4 linked regions of the Homo sapiens genome follow. The protein of the gene in region 1 interacts with the protein of each later gene in a pairwise test. Each region holds a gene or a part of one and is shown in the gene's direction. Other genes may lie near its edges.

Region 1 (4,912 bases):
GGGTTTTGGTAAATTCAGCTAACCTTTTGGAGCCTGTAATATATGTTGACATGCTCCCAATCGACATGGACTTTTTACGTATGGGTGCGTTTCCCCGATCAAGCTGCAGAATGTCTTCCCCACGTCTCTTCCTGGTGAATCCACTGCGTTTTCATTCATTTTAAGTCCCATGAGTGGCCCGCCACTTGCTGGTGCTTAGTGTGTGTCAGGCGCTGTCCTAAGTGCCCTCCATGCACGGCAGTTCTACGACACAGGGATTGGCGCTGTCCTAAGTGCCCTCCATGGACGGCAGTTCTACGACACAGGGATTGGCGCTGTCCTAAGTGCCCTCCATGCACGGCAGTTCTACGACACAGGGATTGGCGCTGTCCTAAGTGCCCTCCATGGACGGCAGTTCTACGACACAGGGATTGGCGCTGTCCTAAGTGCCCTCCATGGACGGCAGTTCTACGACACAGGGATTGGCGCTGTCCTAAGTGCCCTCCATGGACGGCAGTTCTACGACACAGGGATTGGCGCTGTCCTAAGTGCCCTCCATGCACGGCAGTTCTACGACACAGGGATTGGCAGGTTACAACTGAGAGTCCAACGCTGGCCCACTGCCTGTTTTTTGTTTTTTTGTTGTGTTTTTTGAGACGGAGTCTTGCTGTGTTGCCCAGGCTGGAGTGCAGTGGTGTGATCTCGGCTCACTGCAACCTCCGCCTCCCAGGTTCAAGCGATTCTCCTGCCTCAGCCTCCCGAGTAGCTGGGATTACAGGCATGTGCCACCACACCTGCTAATTTTTTGTGTTTTTAGTAGAGATGGGGTTTCACCATGTTGGCCAGGCTGGTCTCAAACTCCTGACTTTGTGACCTGCCTTGGCCTCCCAAAGTGTTGGGATTATAGGCGTGAGCCACTGCTCCCGGCCACTGCCTGTTTTTGTAAGTAAAGATGGATGGCGGTGCAGCTGGCCTCACTGTGCAGCGCCTCCTTCCTGGGTAGGGACGTGTGGTGGGCCTTGGGGAATAGGAACCGTGGGTTATGGATCTAAGGTTGCTTCTCTTACCAGGCTGAGGAGCTTGACTCTTCTGAAGGTGATGGGGTGCTCTGGCAGGGGCTGAGCTGAGGGCAACCCAGTGATAGTGGCTGCCGAGCTCCTCTCAGGCGCCCCCTGCACCAAGATGGCCTGGTCACCATGGGAGGGGACATTGCTCCATCTTACAGATGAGGAAAGAGCTTCGGGACAATGGGGATCCCTGCTGGGTCTTCCCCACACAGCCTCTGCTCCAGGTGTGATGCTTTGTAGATGCAGCCGCTGCAGAGGTATGGGGCCCTGTTTCCCCGCCCAACTCTTGGAACATCCCTGCCAAGCAGGGCTTGTCCTCAGTGATGAGTGGAGGAACTCAAGACTCCGAGAAGATTCCTTTGAAGTTGTTGTCATGTAACAGCGGCTGACCCCACTGACAGTGCTCACAGTGTGTGTCTGGGCTGGGTGGGTCCTGTTGTGGGCATTGAGTCTGGCAGATGCCCGGGCCATGGGGACTGCCGTGCCTGTTCTCACGTCCTCGATTGAATCAGCACTTGGCCTGAGCTGTTCTCACACACGTGGCTCACACGATGGGCACCAGGGTTCTTCCCATTCTACAGATGAAGACACTGAGGCCCTTGGAGGCTCATATGGTACAAACAAGACTTGAACCCAAGGAGCCATGAACCCAGGGAGCCCAACTCTTGTATCCTTGGCTCTGTGTTGCTCAAGTGAGACGGGCAGAGCCAGGGCTCGCGGCTGAGCTTCCAGTGTGACCCATTCTTCCTTGGACCCAGGCAGAGCCTGCAGCCTGCCATGCTGCCTGTGGGGAGTCACAGCTGAGTGTGGGCTCTGGAGGCTGCCTTTTTCCTGCCTGTGTGTCTTTGCTCTGTGCCTCAGTTTTTGCCTTCTGTGCTGTATGTATAGCATTGCAGTAGGAGGTTGAAAGTCTTACAGGATGCCTGGCCCATGGGGTGAGTGCCCGGTGTGTGTTCCTGCTCCCGGGCTGCTGCTACTTGTCCCTGTAGCATAGGAGCTGGGTCTCCTGGGGTCTGTGTGGCCCCAGTCTGGTGGTTGGAGCTGGCTGGGTTGGTGCTTCCAGTTCTGTGGGGGCAGCGTCATCATGGGCTGGAAGGGCTTGAGTGAGTAGGTGGGAGAGGGTGTGTGGGGGCATCTCCCCTCCTTCCATGGGCACAGCGGCTCATGCTTCTGAGGCTCTTTCCCATTTCCTGTCTTACCTATTCCTTCCCAGCATCAGGATGGAGGTGGGATGGGGCCACTCACACTTGGTGTGGAGGCTGCAGAGGAAGGGGAGGCCATATGGCCTAGGTTTTGAACTTGGGAGTCAGGCTGGTTGGTTACCGGGGCCTGGCATAGCTGATATCTGACAGGACGGCGTCAAGTTACATTGGCAGAGCCTGTGGGGTCTCAGGTTGAATCATCCCACCAGCAGGCACTTGTCTGTGAGTCCAGAGTTCAGTGGATAGGGCAGGATCGAGGGCCAGTAAATTCAGCTGATAAGCCCCCACTCTGGTATGTCAGCCCTCGAAGACACTGGATCCTGCATCCCACAGTCAGCCCACAGTTCCCAGTGAGATCAGAGCAGCTAATGCTGCGGATGCTGTTCTGAGACTTCCCGGGCAGCCGCGGCTGCTCATCGTGTCGTGCCACCCCTGTGAGGGCAGTTGCACCCCTGCAGTGGCACCTGCAGTTCTGACAGGGCGTGAAGGGAAGGGACTGAGCTTTTTTTTTTTTTTCCTTTGAGATGGAGTCTCACTCTGTTGCTCAGGCTGGAGTGCAGTGGAGTGATCTCGGCTCACTGCAACCTCCGCCTCCTGGGTTCACGCCATTCTTCTGCCTCAGCCTCCTGAGTAGCTGGGACTACAGGTGCACGCTACCACAGCCCGCTAATTTTTGTGTTTTTAGAGAGACGGGGTTTCACCATGTTGGACAGGATGGTCTTATCTCTTGACCTTGTGATCTGCCCGCCTTGGCCTCCCAAAGTGCTGAGATTACAGGCGTGAGCCCCCGCGCCCGGCCGGGACTGAGCTTTAATGGGAGCCTTGCCTGGGTGGCTGTCAGAGAAGGGGTGGGGTGTGTTGTGACTCACCAGTAGGTCCCGAGCCCAGGTGACCTGCCAGCATTCCACAGCAGCAGGTAGCAGATGTGGGTGTGAACTTTGTGCCTTTGGAGCGTTCTGGAGGATGTTCTAGTTTGAGGTTCCCCTGAGGCTGGGCAGATTTGGGAGACATGGTGCGTTCTCCCCGAGGAGCCTCTGTGTGCCACTGCCCAGGACCCTCACTGGTCAGATAAGGCTGGGGTGGGGTGGGCACGTGGCGACCCCTCCCTCGTCAGATCAGGCAGGAAGTGTTCTCTTTGGCAATTGAGGAGCTCGCCGTAGACTGTCCAGGTTTTGGGAGATAACCTGGTACTGGAATTGAAGTCCTCCTCTTCTCTACCCATAGGGGTTGTGTCCACTGTGGTCCCCGACTCTGCCCACAAGCTGTTCATCGGGGGCTTACCCAACTACCTGAACGATGACCAGGTAACTTCCCTGCCTCCCTCCAGACCCGTCCCCCCACCCCGCCCCACCTCATCCCAGCCCTGATGGACTCTCGGCTACTGCAGGTCAAAGAGCTGCTGACATCCTTTGGGCCCCTCAAGGCCTTCAACCTGGTCAAGGACAGTGCCACGGGGCTCTCCAAGGGCTACGCCTTCTGTGAGTACGTGGACATCAACGTCACGGATCAGGTGAGTCCCCGGTCGCTGGCCGCTGCCGCGTCTGTCCTTCCCTGCCCTGCGCTGTTGCCAAGCCATGGTCTCCCCTCCTCAGGGGACGGGGCGGGAGGCGGCCAACCTGAGGCAGTGCCCTGTGTGTGGGCTCGTCCCTGTCCCATGGCGTTGGCTTTTTCCAGGCTCTTAATCCCCTTTGCCTTCCCCTCTTCCCCCACCAATGCCCCGGCTTGGGGGTAGGTGTCGGGCTCCTGGTCCCTGACCCCACCTCTCCCCGCACCCCCCGACCCCTCATCCTCCAAACACAGGCCATTGCGGGGCTGAACGGCATGCAGCTGGGGGATAAGAAGCTGCTGGTCCAGAGGGCGAGTGTGGGAGCCAAGAATGCCACGCTGGTGAGCCCCCCGGCACGTCATCTTCCATTGGCTTGAGGGACCCTGGGGGTGGGAGGGGCTGGCTAGTAGGGGACAAGTGTTCCTGATCTTTCTCCCAGCTTTCATGGGAAGGCATTTGGGGGGCATTCAGTGCAGTGTTGGGGAGTCGGGCTTTAGGTGTTGGAAGTGGAGAGATGGCCTTTCCCCTGGGGGGGCATGTGAGGGGCCTAGGCTTGAGCAGAGGGAGACTGGGTCTGGGCCCCCTGTGACGCCGCTGCCTCCCCTGGCCCCACAGAGCACCATCAATCAGACGCCTGTGACCCTGCAAGTGCCGGGCTTGATGAGCTCCCAGGTGCAGATGGGCGGCCACCCGACTGAGGTCCTGTGCCTCATGAACATGGTGCTGCCTGAGGAGCTGCTGGACGACGAGGAGTATGAGGAGATCGTGGAGGACGTGCGGGACGAGTGCAGCAAGTACGGGCTTGTCAAGTCCATCGAGATCCCCCGGCCTGTGGACGGCGTCGAGGTGCCCGGCTGCGGAAAGGTCAGGAGGCCTCGGGCTCAGTGCTCTCTCACCCTCTGCCCCTCCTCTTCTCCGCGCCCTCTTTCTTCCTCTCTTGCTCCCTCACCCTCTCCCCCTCCTCTTCTCCGCGCGCTCTTTCTTCCTCTCTCTCTCCTCTCGCAGCGCGTGCGTATAGGTGTATGCCATCACTGAGTGCCGCCCTCAGGCCGGGCCATGGGAGATGTTGGTGACCCTGAGGGGTTTGTGGCCCTGTGGGGGCCCAAGACCTGCAGGCG
Region 2 (3,500 bases), about 36 Mb from region 1:
CGGGGGCCCTAGTCCTGCTCTCAGGGTGGTGAGCTGGCCAATTTCATGATGCTGCTCCCCACCAGACTCAGGGCTCTTCCTGAAGCTGTCACACACCAGCCTTGCCCCATCCCCTGCCTTGCTGTGGGTGCTTCTGCACTGTAGGTCCTCTGGACACCAAAGTGTGGGCTAGAATGGCTGGTCTCCAGGTCCTCACCTGGCCCCCTTGTCAGTGCCCCAGGGGATTCCCGGCCTTCTCCAGTGGGCAGCAATGCCTGTGCAAGGAATGGGACCCCTGTCTGTAGGTTGGTCGCCTACAGGTGTGCAGTGTGATATGCCAGGTGGGTAAATCGTCACCCGTGGAGCTTCTGCCCATGTCTCTGATTTTGGGGTTTACCGACCAGAGCCCATTGTTGCTGGTGAGACAGCTGGTCTTCGACCTCTGTCAGGTTTCCCAGGGAACAGCTAAGAAAAGTTAACCCAAGGCCAAATTCATCCTAGAATGAGGAAGGCTGGTTTGAGTCCCTTCCCCATCAGGTGTCAGGCTGAGAACACCCAGTAGGCTGGCCCCTGGCCAGTCAGCCTGGCCACAGACCTCCAAGGGAATGGTTGTAAACTGGGATTCGGGGACTCGGGTCTTACCCGGCAGAACTGACGTTCTGTCCCCAGAACTGTCCCCAGTCTGTGGGTGCAGCGCGACCGAGATGCCTCCAGCCACAGCGGCCCACTTCAGAGCCCCAGGCTGCTGCTTTTCTGGCTGGGGGACCACAACGAGTCCTTTTGCTCTTTGCCTCACTGTCCCCATCTGTAAAATCAGGGTGGCCTCCTCTGAGCCCCTGAGTTCTGGAAGTCAAGGACCCAGCTCCCCCGGGGCCCACAGCACCTAGGTTAGGTCGGAAGCCGGGAGAGGTGCCCTGCAGATCCCGAGTGCGCATATCCTTCCTTCTATACCAGACGCCCCGACCAGTGCGCCCAGCGCCCCTCCCAGCACACCCACCCCCAGCGCTGGGAAGAGGTCCCTGCTCATCAGCAGGCGGACAGGCCTGGGGCTGGCCAGCCTGCCGGGCCCTGTGAAGAGCTACTCCCACGCCAAGCAGCTGCCCGTGGCGCACCGCCCGAGTGTCTTCCAGTCCCCTGACGAGGACGAGGAGGAGGACTATGAGCAGTGGCTGGAGATCAAAGGTAAGTTGTGGGAGCTGCTGCTCCCCCACCACCAGTGCCCGTGCTCTAGCAGGTGGGATCTGTGGTGGGCAGGGCAAGTGCTGCCAGGGGCATGGGTGCTTTCGGCTGAGTTGCAGCCACCAGACCTCTGAGCTGAGCCTCAGGCCCTCTGAGGTGAGGAGAGCAAAGGAGGGTGAGGGGCGGGGCTGGGGTGTTGCTGGGCATCAGCGCGTGGGCTTCATCTTGGGAGCAGCGGGATCCATCTTCCACTCACACAGCGGCTCATCCCAGCCAAGGCAGGGGCGCACGCCCTTCTCGCATTTGCTCCAAAAGGGCATCCTCACATCCCTTCTAGGAGGAGCTTCTAAGGCTCTTCCGCTGAGCCCTTGAGGCCCCAAAGCACTGCCCCTCACCATGGGTTACCTGTCCCCTGAGTTTAGGCCAGAGGTATGAGCTGCAGGTTGGAGGGTGCTCTCTTCTATCCCTGGGAAAGGACGGTCACTGGTCACGGGTGAGCTTGTCCAGACCGCCCAGTGTAGGAGGGCAAAGGGGGGTGGCTGTGGTGACAGCATTGCCAGCAAGTCCAGCCCTGTCCACATTCAGGACGAGTCCCTGTGACACCTGAACTGTGTGAAGGGCTAGCCGGTGAGGTCACATCACCCTGACAGCACAGACTGAAGCGACTGTGGAGTTGTGCCATGACAGCCTTGAGATCCCTTGCTTCTGGCTGTGTGTCCGAGCGGATCAGAGGCCAGCTTGGCCCCCGGGCCATTAGAATGGAGCTGGCGTGTGTCCTTTCCTTAAAGGGGTGCCCCAGCAGCTCCAAGGGTACCCTGTTGGGAACTGCTGCATTACAAGGGGTATTGGCCATCTCGGGGCCCTTGAAGCCCATTATGACCCACTGTCTGCATGGCCTCAGAAACGCACCTGTTCCTGTAAACAGCAACCAGGTCAGGATTGTTGCTGGGCCCATGGCAGGAGGGCGACCTAGGGTGAAAGACAGTCACGGAATGCTCTCGGGACCTCACAGGGGCCCTCGTTGGGCTACACACTCCCCACCTCTCCCCCATTCCCAGCAGCCCAAGCAACAAGGGGAATAAGATTAGCCACAGGTCTGGCATGTTGCCCAGTTGCCAGGCACTTGCTGGCAGCGAGAAATTTCTCTTGTGCATCTCCTACAAGGACTGCAGTCTGTGTAGTAGCTGACAAACTCACAGCCTCAGAAACAGGCCAAGGGAAAAATGCAAAAGCAAGTTCCACATGGCTCAGTGGGGAGGCTAATCCGTATATAAAAATATATCTTTATAGCTCTGTTCACTGAAAAGGCCCCGAAATAATGATTAAGCCTGTGGCATTGAGCATCCCTAGCTCCCAGATGCTGGTCTGGAGATGCAGTTTCTCATGGAAACCGACTTCTTGGAGAAGTGGCTGGCTCTGGGTCTGGGCAGGAAGTGTATGAGATGATCTTGGAGCGCCTGTCCTGGCAGATGGCAAGGAGGCCATCAGAGACTCCTGGGGCCATGTCCAGAGCCCTCAGGAGCCAGCTTGAAGAGGTTCCACCGGCCGCAGAGCTTCTATGATGACACTAGTTGCCATGGATCGAAACCCACCCAGTGTGTTTAAATCAGAGCTCATAATGGTATTTTTTAAAAAAGAACGTGTCATCTTTGAAGGATGAAAGGGAACCGATGTATTATGCTGAAAACTGGTAAAGAAAGAAAAGAATTAAGCATTTCCCCCACCAAAACCAGGGGAAGCTGGATATATTTTCTGCTAGCTTCCAGCCTGGAGCTCACCACAGCCTCACACACTTCTCTCCCACCTAGTGTGTCTCACCAAGACAGTGAGACCGACTCCCCCCTCGTCATGGTGTTTTGTGCCTGGACTCGGGACGCCCGACAGCCTCCTGCATCTCACACTCTTCTCCCCCCACCCCCTCTGTCGTTGTGGTCCATAGAGAGAGTGTGCCTATTGACTGTGGGGTGTGTGAGTTGAACCCCAGTACTGACAGCCTCCTTAAAGTTTCACCCCCAGAGGGAGCCGAGACTCGGAAAGTGATAGAGAAATTGGCCCGCTTTGTGGCAGAAGGAGGCCCCGAGTTAGAAAAAGTAGCTATGGAGGACTACAAGGATAACCCAGCATTTGCGTGAGTATCTCCGGGGAAGGGAAGGCTGTGCTGTTGAATGCGTTTGCTGCACAGTCGCACGTGTGGGGCTGGGTGCTTGCTAGTGTGGGCCGGATGCTGTTCCAAGCGTTTTCTGATTCTCACCAGAAGTGACAAGTGGCTCCCATGTGGCACGGAGACTTGCTTTCGGGTCCCTGCTCGCCAGCCTGCCTTTTTTTGCACGATAGAAGCTGCA
Region 3 (4,052 bases), on another chromosome or scaffold:
AACACAGACTAATACACTACTCTTCTTTGTTTCCAAGTTTTCTTGATAATTAATTATGTGATCTTCCATATAAAACTTAAAATTAATTAGTTCTAAAACACATATCCCCAAGAGAATTTGGGACTCTCATGAGAATTGCACTAATTTTGTAATTTGACTTGGGAAGAATTGACAGTATTTTTGATACTGACTACTCACCTAAGAATACAGCATGTTTTACATTTACTAGGGCCTTATTACTGCCTTTTCAGTAAAGGTTTATAATAAAGATTGTGTAACTTGTTAAAGTTTATCCCTAAGTATTTTATGGTTTCTGTTGCCATTGTGGAGGAAATATTATTTCATTTTTAATATGTTTTTGCTTATTCAAATAATTCTAATTTTTCTTCTACTTACTTAAGCTTTATTATTGCACTCAATTTTAAAATTGAGGCACCTAGATTTTCAAGGGTTCCTGTCATCTGCAAATATTAACATTGCCTTTTCCTTTTAGGTCTTAACAATGACACAGTTTGTTGTGCCACATAGGGACGAAGCTTTTCGTGGCTAGGGTTGAGGAGGGCTTGCTGGTTATGTGCAAGGGCTTTGCACAATATGATCTAGGTTCACGTCCCTGCTCTGTCACCTACTGGTTGTGTGACCCTTATTTAACCTCTGTGGACCTCAGGGTCCTCATCTCTGAAACGTGGATAATAGTAGTACTTAATTCAGAATTGTAAGAATTAAGCACTTGTTAATACATTAAAGCATTTAGAAGGCACATTAAGCCCTATAGTAAGCATTAGGTTACATTCATCAAAACCTGCTGCCTACTTACCTCCTGCAAGTCTCATAAGCACTTCAGAAAGTGTGGTGTCTCCATTCTACGAATGAGGAAACTAAGTCCAAGGCAGCAAGTGATGAGTGCAGGGTCACTTGGAGATACATTTTAGGGCTGCCCCACAAGACCAGCTCCTAGAAAATAATGCAATCAATCAACTTCTGCGAGGCCGGACTTAAATCCCACTAAAACGTGCTTAATTCATTCAACAGGCGTTGGCATCTTACCAGGGAGGAAAAAAAAAAAAAGAGTACGCCAAGGCGAAAAGGAGAGTCTCCATCTATTGCGTCTCAGGCTTCCGCCAAGACTGGCGGAAAAAAACGAGTCCGCTCCGAAGCGCTCGCCTGCCTTCGGCAAAAATCGTCAGGAGGCGGGGCCCACGCTTCGGCACGTTTCGCGCAGGGCATTGTGGGAAGGGCGGCCGGTGCAGCCGCAGCTGCCATCTTAGGGGCGCCTGGCGCTACGGGTTTCTCGTTGGAGGCGGCCTTCGTGGCAGCTGTAGACGCCGGGAAAAGGCATAAAGTCCGTTGGCCGACACCTTTCTTTCCTCCGGCCTCGGTAGAACCGCCAGCCCGCGTCCGAAGGCGGAGGCGAGGGGAACTGGCCGCGTGAGGGGCCTGAGGCGAGCGGTTAGAGCGTCTCCCGGAAGGATGGGCCGGTCTCGGAGCCGGAGCTCGTCCCGCTCCAAGCACACCAAGAGCAGCAAGCACAACAAGAAGCGCAGCCGGTCCCGGTCGCGATCCCGGGACAAGGAGCGCGTGCGGAAGCGTTCCAAATCTCGGGAAAGTAAACGGAACCGGCGGCGGGAGTCGCGGTCCCGTTCGCGCTCCACCAACACGGCCGTGTCCCGGCGCGAGCGGGACCGGGAGCGCGCCTCGTCCCCGCCCGACCGCATCGACATCTTCGGGCGCACGGTGAGCAAGCGCAGCAGCCTGGACGAGAAGCAGAAGCGAGAGGAGGAGGAGAAGAAAGCGGAGTTCGAGCGGCAGCGAAAAATGTGAGTGCCCGCGCGGGGAGGGACCGGGGCGTGCGGAGAGCAGGGCGCGGGGCGAGGGCGTGGGGCCGGGGCGGGACGGTGCGGGCCGGGAGAATGGCGGGGACGGTCCGGGGCTGGGGACCGGGCGCGGGAACGGGTCGGAGAGGCGGCGGCGGGGCGGGCAGGCTTGGCGTTTGGAAAGCTTGGGGTGGGACAGACCCAGAAGTTGTTCGGGATGGAAAATTCGAGGGCTTGAGCAGAAAGGGTTTAAGAGAAGGCGATTTTGGCGCGAGAGAGGAGTGGTGTCCCGGAAGTAGGGGTGGAGTTCGGAGTGAGGTCGGAGAGCTGCGTTGGCTTGTGAGGCCGGGAGCGAGCCGGCCTGCAGATGTGGAGGGTGGTGAGCGTTTGCTGGTCGGCTTGAGGAGGAGAGAGAAGGGAATTAACCTTTGAGATGCGAATCACAGCTGGCCAGAAGCATTCTATTGAAGCTCAAATTTGGGACAGGACTTAACTAATCTCGGGAATCATACACTTTAGGTGGTCCGCCAGAAAAATGCATTTTCACTTTAGTGTATTCCTGTTGTTAAGGTGTTGGGATTGCTTTTTTCCCCTTGAGCCTACACCCTCACCCCTTCCTTGAGATGTTAAAAAAAAAAAGCATAGACCTTAAGTGTACAGTGCGATGAGTTTTTTGACCTTTGAATTCACCTGTGTAATCACCATCCCAAAGCCTACCGCTTTTTTAACTTGCTTTCTATTCCTGTAGCAAACACGTGCAGTTTTGTTGTTTCCCTTACACTGTGCTTCTTCAGAAGACACTTGAAGGGTTGATTTTATTTTGGCGTTGCTCCCATGAAGGATATTTAGTGAAAACTAGAGTTAGAGTGTGTTTCCGAAAATGTCAGCTCTCAAGTATTTCTGGCTATGAAAGTAGATGTGGATAAATAATCCCAAACTAAAGGAATTTTTGGGTTTTAAAATTTAGGGATTTGTTGTGTGTTTTGCTTTATGATCATCGTACTTTGATGCTCTGGGTATTCAGTTTCCAAAAACCGCATTGAAAAGTAGATTTGAACAGTCCTACTAACTCCCTATTGAACCAGCCGTACTTGGTCAGTTCTTCAGTGAATATTTAGAAAGTGCTCATGAAGCAAGAACGTTACTGAATTTATGATTTTCTCGAGGCGAGTATATGTGTGCTGAATTGACTGCGTGGTTTGTAGTTTTCTGTAGTTGGGTTTGTGTTAGGTAGATTTTCCAGCACACACACACAGCTTGTTTCTAAAACCAAAGTTACTAAAAGGTAGGACTGGAGCACTAATATTACAGAGGAAGCTGTACCTGGAGCTGTTTTGCTTCCAACACTCCTTTAAAACACATGCAACACTCATTTTTCCTGTACTTAGAACTGTCAGTGATACATATGAAAACAAAGTTCAAGTAATCGTTTCAAATTAAACCTTGATTTTGTAGAATACAACTTTTGGGTCTGCAACAAGGCCCTTAGCTGTAAAGATCTCAAATAGCTATCAACAGATGGATGTATGAAAAGTTACCTAAGACATTGCTGAGATAATTTCTACATGTGAAAACAAAGGAGACCTCCAAAGAGTAATAACTTGCCTTTCACTAGAAAGCTAAGATATGTAGGAAAAATGAAAAGAAACTTGGTATGCAAAGAATAAATAGAAGCATTTAGCAGGTTTCGCATGTATAGCAGACAAGAAATTCAGGAATGAAATACGGCAAATAGAGGAGCTATATGGTTCTCTGGTTTGAGAGAAGACACAAACTGCCAATAGTATTTAGGAGGGAGAAGGGACCAGGACTAGCAGCCACCTGTACTCTAAATTCCTGGGTGCCGTACAATAGGCATTTTATTTAATATATTCTAATGTCTTGGAAACAATGCAAAAGAAACAATGGAAAGACTTAAGTGTTGGAGCTTTGGCAGTGTAAGGAAACAGTTTGCAGTCTACATATCCTGTTGGTTATTTTATTCATTTAACTGATGTTTATTGAGCATTTAATAAGTGCCAGGCACTGTGCTAGGTACTGTTAATATAAAGATGATTGGCCCTTCTCCAAGAGCTTGATCTAGCTCAAAGACAGATCATTAAATAGGCAATAATACAGTGTAGTAAATTTAGTGACAGTAATATAAACTGTATAAAGGAAGTATCCTGTGTGGGTGGAGGATATAAGAATATGACAATGTCAGGCAAGGTATAGGACATATGTGGAGCACAGAAAAGA
Region 4 (2,843 bases), 960 kb from region 1:
CCGAGCACCAGCGCACGCACACCGGGGAGAAGCCGTACGCCTGCAAGGAGTGCGGCAAGGCCTTCAACAAGAGCTCCTCGCTCACCCTGCACCAGAGGAACCACACCGGCGAGAAGCCCTACGTGTGCGGCGAGTGCGGCAAGGCCTTCAGCCAGAGCTCCTACCTCATCCAGCACCAGCGCTTCCACATCGGCGTGAAGCCGTTCGAGTGCAGCGAGTGCGGCAAGGCCTTCAGCAAGAACTCCTCGCTCACGCAGCACCAGCGCATCCACACCGGCGAGAAGCCCTACGAGTGCTACATCTGCAAGAAGCACTTCACGGGGCGCTCGTCCCTCATCGTGCACCAGATCGTGCACACCGGGGAGAAGCCCTACGTGTGCGGCGAGTGCGGCAAGGCCTTCAGCCAGAGCGCCTACCTCATCGAGCACCAGCGGATCCACACCGGCGAGAAGCCGTACAGGTGCGGCCAGTGCGGGAAGTCCTTCATCAAGAACTCCTCCCTCACTGTGCACCAGCGGATCCACACGGGCGAGAAGCCCTACCGATGCGGCGAGTGCGGGAAGACCTTCAGCCGCAACACGAACCTGACGCGCCACCTGCGGATTCACACCTGAGCGCCTCTGTGCAGGGCTCTCACTGGCGGTGCCCAGGACGGACGCCAGATGGCTGCGCGCTTTGTCAGCAGTGCTGTGAGAAGTTCTCCCCTGGGGTGGGGACTCGGGGTCAGGGGAGCTCAGGAATGTGGGGTTGTGGAGGGGCTGGCTGATCACACATGCCCCCTCCTTACTGAGCCTCAGAAAGCAAGCCCCTCGGTGTCTGACGTATCTGGGGACACTTCAAGGTTCACTGTAGCTGAGCCATGGCCGCTGGTAACAGACATCAGGGTTCCAGACTAGCCCTCTTGAGTAACTGTCCTAGAGCTGGGACAGGTCACGCCTGCCTCCACATCTCTGTTTCTTCAGCGGGAAAGTGGAGCTGGTGGAGGGGAGGGAGGAGACATCTCCCTCTTTGTCAGATACATCCTGGAGTCCAGATGCAGCTTGTCACCATCTGCATTTTCTCCGTGGGTTGGGAGCGTGAGGGCCTTCCTATCCCTCCACCCACCGTTTCCCTGCAGTGCACGCTGGCAGCCACCAAGCTAGGAAGTGGCAGGAGTTTGCCGGTTGTTTGTGAGGGGAAAAATTTTTTTTTCAGAGTTAGCAAATAACAGTAACTACTGCTTTGAATGCCAAAGTTTCTTAGAGTGGTCTGTTACGTTTTTTAAAAATAAAACTTTTAATTAAGGGAGACTATGTTATTTTAAACAGTCTTCTGTTTTGGCCAGTTGTCTGGTCAAAATCGGCTTCAGTGATTGTGGGAGGGGCAAGAAGGAAAAGAAACAGCAGCAGGTTTGATATTCAGAAAGAAATATGCATGGATTCAATAAGTATATACATCTGAGCACAGATTATTTTTATAGTGATTTTTGCAGCTAAATGTGAAGGCAACTGTCTTAAGTCCCTTCCTGCTGCTGTAACAAAAGACCTTAGACTGGGTAATTTATAAACAATAGAAATTTGTCACTCATGGTTCTGGATGCTGGGAAGTCCAAGATCAAGGCTCTGGCAGATTTGGTGTCTGATGGGGTATGTTCTTCATAGGTAGTGCTTGTGTCTTGATGTGTGTCTTCACGTGGTTGTAAACGGCAGACTTCCTCAGGCCCCTTATAAGGGTGCTAATCCCAGTCACAAGGGCCCTGACCTCATGACCTCCCAAAGGTCCTCCCTCTTCATACTGTTACATTGGGGATCAAGTTTCCAATATGTGAATACAGGGAAGCACCAACAGACCATATCAGTAACTTCGAGTGAGTTTCCTAAGGCCGACTGAAGCTCTGTTTACACATAAGAGTGTTCCCCAAAGTGCACTTTCTCTGGGGCCTTTTAGGCCATACTTTTAATTTTGTTATTTGATACTACTGGTTGCTAATGTTCTGGCATTTCCAGTTGTTCCACACTCCCTGACACTGGTGTACACAAATAAATAATACAGAAAAAAAATTATATCAGCAAGCACATTCTGCAAATAAGAAAAACAGCCACTCGGGCACGTATAAACAAGGTGGACCGTTTTTCAAATTCTGGCAGTCAAGTGGGCCTCAGGGTGGGTTTGATTCAGGCTCTCATCATTGGAGCCATAGCTGTGGTTCTCTGTGATGCTCTGGCTCTCCCTTCATACTTCTTAACATCATCCTCAGGCTGGCTTCCCACGTGGGATTGTGGTGGTTTCCAGCAGCGAGTCTTGATCAGACATTGCTTTAGTTGCATCTGTTGTGGGAATAAATGAGAATATGTATGCACTGCAGAGAATGGAGTGTTAAAACAGTCAACAAATGTTAGCTAATATGTACACAAGATTTTACTACTCTTTAGCAGCAAAATGGAGGGGAAGACCTTCTAAGGCCCTTTGGAGAGATGAAATGGCTCATTTAACCCTCACAAGATCCTCGAGGTAGGGATTCATGTGCATGTCGTATAGATAAGGAATCTGAGGTTCAGTGAGGCAAGGTAAGCTTCCTGAGGGCACACAACATGGAAGTGGAGGGGACAGGGTGTGAGCTGGGGTCCACCTGGGCTCCGAGGTCCGTGCTCCTTGCCTACACTGGACTACTTCTAGAGATGGACATATTGAATTTCTCAGGACTTGACTCCTGGCCTTGGTTTCCTGGACTCCCCAGTGTGTGAAGCAGAGATGGGATCGAGGCTGCACCACCACCATCCCCCTCTCCCATCCAGAGAACCAGCCGGGCCACCTCTCAGGTCCCTCCTGTTTCTTTTCTCTGCAACCCAAGCTGATGTGGAGGG

The links. The genes of interacting proteins can lie anywhere in the genome.
Region 2: the proteins of U2AF2 (region 1) and SUGP1 interact in binary tests that used the Homo sapiens proteins (3 or more experiments, as listed by UniProt).
Region 3: the proteins of U2AF2 (region 1) and ARGLU1 interact in binary tests that used the Homo sapiens proteins (3 or more experiments, as listed by UniProt).
Region 4: the proteins of U2AF2 (region 1) and ZNF71 interact in binary tests that used the Homo sapiens proteins (3 or more experiments, as listed by UniProt).

The regions. Positions count from the first base shown.
Region 1 is NC_000019.10:55,665,035-55,669,946, forward strand, and holds part of U2AF2 (splicing factor U2AF 65 kDa subunit), read left to right. Parts: intron 1-3,472; coding exon 3,473-3,552; intron 3,553-3,635; coding exon 3,636-3,758; intron 3,759-4,048; coding exon 4,049-4,147; intron 4,148-4,409; coding exon 4,410-4,658; intron 4,659-4,912. UniProt on the Homo sapiens protein: Plays a role in pre-mRNA splicing and 3'-end processing. By recruiting PRPF19 and the PRP19C/Prp19 complex/NTC/Nineteen complex to the RNA polymerase II C-terminal domain (CTD), and thereby pre-mRNA, may couple transcription to splicing.
Region 2 is NC_000019.10:19,303,510-19,307,009, reverse strand, and holds part of SUGP1 (SURP and G-patch domain-containing protein 1), read left to right. Parts: intron 1-933; coding exon 934-1,161; intron 1,162-3,162; coding exon 3,163-3,286; intron 3,287-3,500.
Region 3 is NC_000013.11:106,565,338-106,569,389, reverse strand, and holds the start of ARGLU1 (arginine and glutamate-rich protein 1), read left to right. Parts: upstream 1-1,252; 5' UTR 1,253-1,470; coding exon 1,471-1,817; intron 1,818-4,052. UniProt on the Homo sapiens protein: Dual function regulator of gene expression; regulator of transcription and modulator of alternative splicing. General coactivator of nuclear receptor-induced gene expression, including genes activated by the glucocorticoid receptor NR3C1.
Region 4 is NC_000019.10:56,622,144-56,624,986, forward strand, and holds the end of ZNF71 (endothelial zinc finger protein induced by tumor necrosis factor alpha), read left to right. Parts: coding exon 1-614; 3' UTR 615-2,343; downstream 2,344-2,843. UniProt on the Homo sapiens protein: May be involved in transcriptional regulation.